2 separate regions of the Homo sapiens genome follow, and region 1 is linked to region 2. Evidence: fine-mapped QTL for protein levels in blood plasma. Region 2 holds a variant in brackets. A gene starts in the other region. All regions are shown on their forward strands.

Region 1 (2,872 bases), not on the chromosome of region 2:
TGGGAGCCTCAAGGGCCAAATGTGAGGGCCAGTGGGAGGGTCCCGTTTACCTCCCCAGAACAGGTCCTGGTGTGGATTGGAAAGACTTGTTGACTGACTGTCTGAGCTATGACAACTCATTTCTAGGAGGAAAGTGACCTTCTCTCCCAGATGGGTCATACAGGCTCTCTGCCTCCCTGGCCATCAGCTGAACCACTATCTATGGCTCCCTTCCCTGCCCTCCAGCCTCCAGGGTGCTATCCAACACATGTGATATCTACATGTAGTATCCATGTCCTCATCTCTCCCCCGAGAGCTCCCTGGAAAGAGCTGAGCCAAGGCCTTGCAAAAAAGGTGGAGAAAGGGCCAGGGCCTGGACATTTCATGTTCCCACCCCAGCCTGGCCACTAGGAGTGTTCTACGCAGGCTCAGATGGATGGGGCTGGCCTCACAGTGGGGTCTGGAGGACTAAGGTTTGGTTTCTCTATGCAAGGTCAGAAAAACTCCCACAGTACAGGGAAACTGGCCAGGGCTGCAGACTCAGACCACAGTGCTAAAGCCATGAACTCCACCTGCTCTCTGAAGGCTCGCCAACCTGAGTCCAGCAGAATGTTCTCGCTTGTGTCCAACCCCACTGGTTTAGGCTGAATCAGCCTCTAGGGCCCAGAGGCACTGCACCTGGAGTAGGGAGCTTCTCCAGTATCAGAGTCACCTTCAGAGGCCTGGAGCCTTTCATAAAGCAGGTAAGAGGACTCAATAGATGCATCTGCATGGAAAACATCCTCCCCTCTACCAGGCACCTGTATGTACAACCAATCACAGCAGCACACATACACCCAGAAATGGGCACGTGTGGGCCCACACCCCTTTAGCTATGAAACCCAGGCATGGGGCAGCTTGAGCCAGATACCTTGTGCAAACACAAACTCGTGCTGTCTTCTCTGAACTCCATTGTGAAAATCAAACACTTGTCAGCCCCTCAAGAGCCTTTAGATTTCCTACTTCCACACTTCCACAGAAAGGCCTCTGGAGTTGGGGGATGCTGGGGTTATGTAGGAAATTAAGCCTGGAGGGCCTTGCTGGGGAAGCCATTGTCCCTGTACCTGAGATGGATGCAGCCACAGCCCTGGAGCCAGCCTGAAGCTCCTGGTGTCTTCTGGGGGCTACATATAGGAGTGTAGTCCGAACCTCAGAGGGGCAAACCTGCTCTGCAGAGGGAATCAAGGTTCACATAACCAGAGAGGGGAGTCACTCAGGAAGGTGGCTCCAGAGCCAAGAGTCAGACTCTGGGTCCCGACTTGACCCAGCCACACCCCCTCTGAAGCTTGCTGAGAGTGGCTGCAGTCTCGCTGCTGGATGTGCACATGGTGGTCATTCCCTCTGCTCACAGGGGCAGGGGTCCCCCCTTACTGGACTGAGGTTGCCCCCTGCTCCAGGTCCTGGGTGGGAGCCCATGTGAACTGTCAGTGGGGCAGGTCTGTGAGAGCTCCCCTCACACTCAAGTCTCTCACAGTGGCCAGAGAAGAGGAAGGCTGGAGTCAGAATGAGGCACCAGGGCGGGCATAGCCTGCCCAAAGGCCCCTGGGATTACAGGCAGGATGGGGAGCCCTATCTAAGTGTCTCCCACGCCCCACCCCAGCCATTCCAGGCCAGGAAGTCCAAACTGTGCCCCTCAGAGGGAGGGGGCAGCCTCAGGCCCATTCAGACTGCCCAGGGAGGGCTGGAGAGCCCTCAGGAAGGCGGGTGGGTGGGCTGTCGGTTCTTGGAAAGGTTCATTAATGAAAACCCCCAAGCCTGACCACCTAGGGAAAAGGCTCACCGTTCCCATGTGTGGCTGATAAGGGCCAGGAGATTCCACAGTTCAGGTAGTTCCCCCGCCTCCCTGGCATTTTGTGGTCACCATTAATCATTTCCTCTGTGTATTTAAGAGCTCTTTTGCCAGTGAGCCCAGTACACAGAGAGAAAGGCTAAAGTTCTCTGGAGGATGTGGCTGCAGAGCCTGCTGCTCTTGGGCACTGTGGCCTGCAGCATCTCTGCACCCGCCCGCTCGCCCAGCCCCAGCACGCAGCCCTGGGAGCATGTGAATGCCATCCAGGAGGCCCGGCGTCTCCTGAACCTGAGTAGAGACACTGCTGCTGAGATGGTAAGTGAGAGAATGTGGGCCTGTGCCTAGGCCACCCAGCTGGCCCCTGACTGGCCACGCCTGTCAGCTTGATAACATGACATTTTCCTTTTCTACAGAATGAAACAGTAGAAGTCATCTCAGAAATGTTTGACCTCCAGGTAAGATGCTTCTCTCTGACATAGCTTTCCAGAAGCCCCTGCCCTGGGGTGGAGGTGGGGACTCCATTTTAGATGGCACCACACAGGGTTGTCCACTTTCTCTCCAGTCAGCTGGCTGCAGGAGGAGGGGGTAGCAACTGGGTGCTCAAGAGGCTGCTGGCCGTGCCCCTATGGCAGTCACATGAGCTCCTTTATCAGCTGAGCGGCCATGGGCAGACCTAGCATTCAATGGCCAGGAGTCACCAGGGGACAGGTGGTAAAGTGGGGGTCACTTCATGAGACAGGAGCTGTGGGTTTGGGGCGCTCACTGTGCCCCGAGACCAAGTCCTGTTGAGACAGTGCTGACTACAGAGAGGCACAGAGGGGTTTCAGGAACAACCCTTGCCCACCCAGCAGGTCCAGGTGAGGCCCCACCCCCCTCTCCCTGAATGATGGGGTGAGAGTCACCTCCTTCCCTAAGGCTGGGCTCCTCTCCAGGTGCCGCTGAGGGTGGCCTGGGCGGGGCAGTGAGAAGGGCAGGTTCGTGCCTGCCATGGACAGGGCAGGGTCTATGACTGGACCCAGCCTGTGCCCCTCCCAAGCCCTACTCCTGGGGGCTGGGGGCAGCAGC
Region 2 (2,909 bases):
GAGGTAGTCTTCCATCCTTGCTATATCTCTGGGACACTGGGCATCTTTTCTGGGCTCCACCCTAGGGGTTGGGAATCTAATAACTTTGATTTTTTTTCTCTACCCCCAATTACCAACCCTCTAATTCTTCAACACTAGGCACATGGGAATTGTGTTTTGTTTTCAAACCTGGGCAACAAAGTGAGACCATGTTCCTACAGAAAATTTAAAAATAGCTGAGCATAATGGCATACAAGTGTAGTCCCAGCTACTTGGGAAGCTGAGGCATGATGATTGCCTGAGCCCAACAGTTCAAGGCTGCAGTGAACTATGATCCCATCAATGCACTCCAGCTTGGGTGACAGTCAGACCATGCCTCTAAAAAAATTGCTTTTTTGTTGGTTGGATGAATGGATGGACCCATGGATGAATATATAGATGAATGAATGGATTTGTAGAAGAGTGACTGACACATAGGAGGGACATTTGGATGAATGAAAGAATGGAGGAATAGATGGTGGATGGTTGAGATCAGCAAATGAATATATGGATGAAAAGATGCCTAGTAAAGGCACAATGTGATTTAAAAAAAATGAATCTCTCAGTGAATCAATGGACGGTTGGATGAATGGATGAGTGAGTAAGTGGTAGATGTGATGGAGAGTTGCACAATGAAATGGGGAGATGGGTTTGAGTGAATGGATGGTGAGTGAGTGAATGAATGGATAAATGGATAGATGGTGAGTTGGGTAGAGGGATGGACAAATGGACAGTTGAGTGAATGGGTGAGTGATTGGATTACCCGATGAATGGGTGGGTAGTTGGATGGATGGAAGGGCAGGTAAAAAATTCTGGCCACAAACTGAAGCGATCTTGGGGTACAATCTGGGCACAGTTTAGGTGAATAGCAGCTTATTTTCTGATCCCAAATTGGCTCTGTTTACCTCCATGGATACATATTCTCTATTTCTAGGTTCAGTCATCCTTCTGTCTCCCTCTGGGTTTCCAAGAATCTTACCTTGGAACTCCAATTGAACTGAGCCCTGGGCTTGTCTGCTGACCTTCTCAACAGTAAGGAGAACACCCCTGGAAGAGCATGTGTCCTTCTGAGGGTACAGGGTTGAACCAGCTCTTCATGATGACGGTGGTCTGCTCTTAAGCCTTTCTAGCAGTTTCTTGTTTTGTGGCCTCACCCAATCTTCACTGGGCATCAAACAGATGAAGATCGAACCTTGGTCTCCAGCTCAGTTCCAACTCCACCTGTCCCCTCCATGGGTGATGGTGGAGACAAAGGATAAATTAGAGAAAGGGGTCATCCAGGTCCACCCTTTGCCATTACTCCAAGAACTCTTTCCTTTTTCCCAGGTTCTCCAAGCAGCTATGGATGTGGGTTTCTCGGGCCTGCCAGATGTGTCTCAGAGTCATAGCAAGACCTTGTGGGGGGCTCGGGGCAGGGGCCCCTCCATACGTCGCCAGCGGGAGTTCATGCCAGAAGAAAAGAAGGACACAGTTTACTGGGAGAAGCGGAGGAAGAACAATGAAGCAGCCAAGAGATCCAGGGAAAAGCGACGTCTCAATGATGCAGCCATTGAGGGCAGGCTGGCTGCACTGATGGAGGAGAATGCCCTGCTCAAGGGTGAGCTGAAGGCGCTCAAGCTTCGCTTTGGCCTCCTGCCCCTGACTGGTGGGCCC[C/T]GGGCCTTGCCCCTGCAGGCTCTGCTATTGGAAGCCCCCTGGACTGGGGACCCCCGGCCTGGGGCTGAAGCACTCTCATCCTTGTCTGGCTCTCACAGCTGCCTCTTAAGGCCACGTTCCCTGGATGCTGGGATTCCAGGATGTCGGGGCTGCCTGCTGGCTCCCAGATGGACTGGCTTGGCCACTTCTCCTAGGTCCCCCCAAGAGTCTGCATCTCCTACCCTCAACAGAATTGACATGGCCTTGCAGACTGCCCTCCCACCTGCCCTCTTCAGCTGTCACCTCTTGGAGGGGCATGTAGGGTCCAGACCAGAGCTCAGACCCTGCTGGGGGCTGTGGTCACCAGTGCCCTCTGGATGCCGGGCTTCAGGGCCATCAGATGTGTTGCTGACACCCACTGCTGATCCCATGGGTCTGTCTCCTGGGGTGACCTGCCCTGCCCCAGGGAACAGTCCTGAGGGTCTGGGTCAGCCCTCTCTGCCCCACAAACTGCGCATCAAGTCCCGAGCCTCAGGCAGGGTACCTCGTGGCTGGGAGGGTGGTCAGGCGCCCCTCTGAGGGCTTCCTCTGGGAAGGGCTAGGCTTGCAAGGGGGTGTTTGGGGGCGGAATATAGGTTTGTCTGAGGGATGAGTAGCTTGGTCTTGATCAGCAATCTGGGAAGGCCTGTAGGAAGTAGGGGTGCCCTGGCTTGGAAGGTCCACTTCACAGCTTCCATACCAGACCTCCTAGGGGTGGAGTGGATGGGAGCCCATCTTGGATTCTACCATGGCTCTTGCCTTGCCTTAAAATCTATGCTTTGGGTTGTCACTTTTCCCTCTTCCTTCCTCCTTTCCATTTATCTATTCTTCCCTATAGCCATCCATTCATCCATTCATCCTCATTTATTCATCCATTCATTCATTCATCAATCCTTATCCATCCATCCATTAGTCCCTCCATCCTTATCCATCTATCCATCCATCCATCCATCCATCCACCCATCTATTCATCCATCCATCAATCCATCCATCCATTCCATCCATCCATCCATCCATCCATCCATCCATCCCTCCATCCATTCATCCACTTGTCCGTCCATCCATCCATCCATCCATCCATCCATCCATCCATCCGTCCATCTATCCATCCATCCATTCATCCATCCGTCCATCCATTCAGCCATCCATCTGTCCATTTATCCATCCTCCATTTATCCATGCATCTATTCTCATTCATCCATGCATTTGTTCTTCCTTCT

Alleles and levels. Alleles are on the strand shown, and positions count from the first base shown. The strength of an association depends on the size of the effect and on how common the allele is.
For the plasma level of the protein whose gene starts at base 1,929 in region 1, allele T in region 2 goes with a lower level than allele C (strong association).

What was found. PIP is the chance, under the fine-mapping model, that this variant and not a neighbour inherited with it causes the effect. Protein levels are from antibody-based Olink assays in UK Biobank. Linkage for the fine-mapping came from a reference panel and not from the study's own genotypes, which makes the PIPs less certain.
Region 1: it holds the start of CSF2, and the variant in region 2 is fine-mapped to the plasma level of the CSF2 protein (UK Biobank, PIP 0.94).

What each region holds. Positions count from the first base shown.
Region 1 is chr5:132,071,861-132,074,732 of GRCh38, forward strand. It overlaps CSF2 (colony stimulating factor 2), which reads left to right and starts at 1,929. Exons shown (of 4, transcript NM_000758.4): 1 at 1,929-2,122; 2 at 2,221-2,262. The coding sequence starts at 1,964.
Region 2 is chr19:8,675,407-8,678,315 of GRCh38, forward strand. It overlaps NFILZ (NFIL3 like basic leucine zipper), which reads left to right. Exons shown (of 6, transcript NM_001378600.1): 5 at 953-1,050; 6 at 1,345-2,909. The coding sequence starts at 1,360. The coding sequence ends at 2,229. Among named protein-coding and RNA genes, the nearest start is that of ACTL9, 22 kb to the right of the region's middle. The variant C/T (reference allele first, on the strand shown) is at 1,672.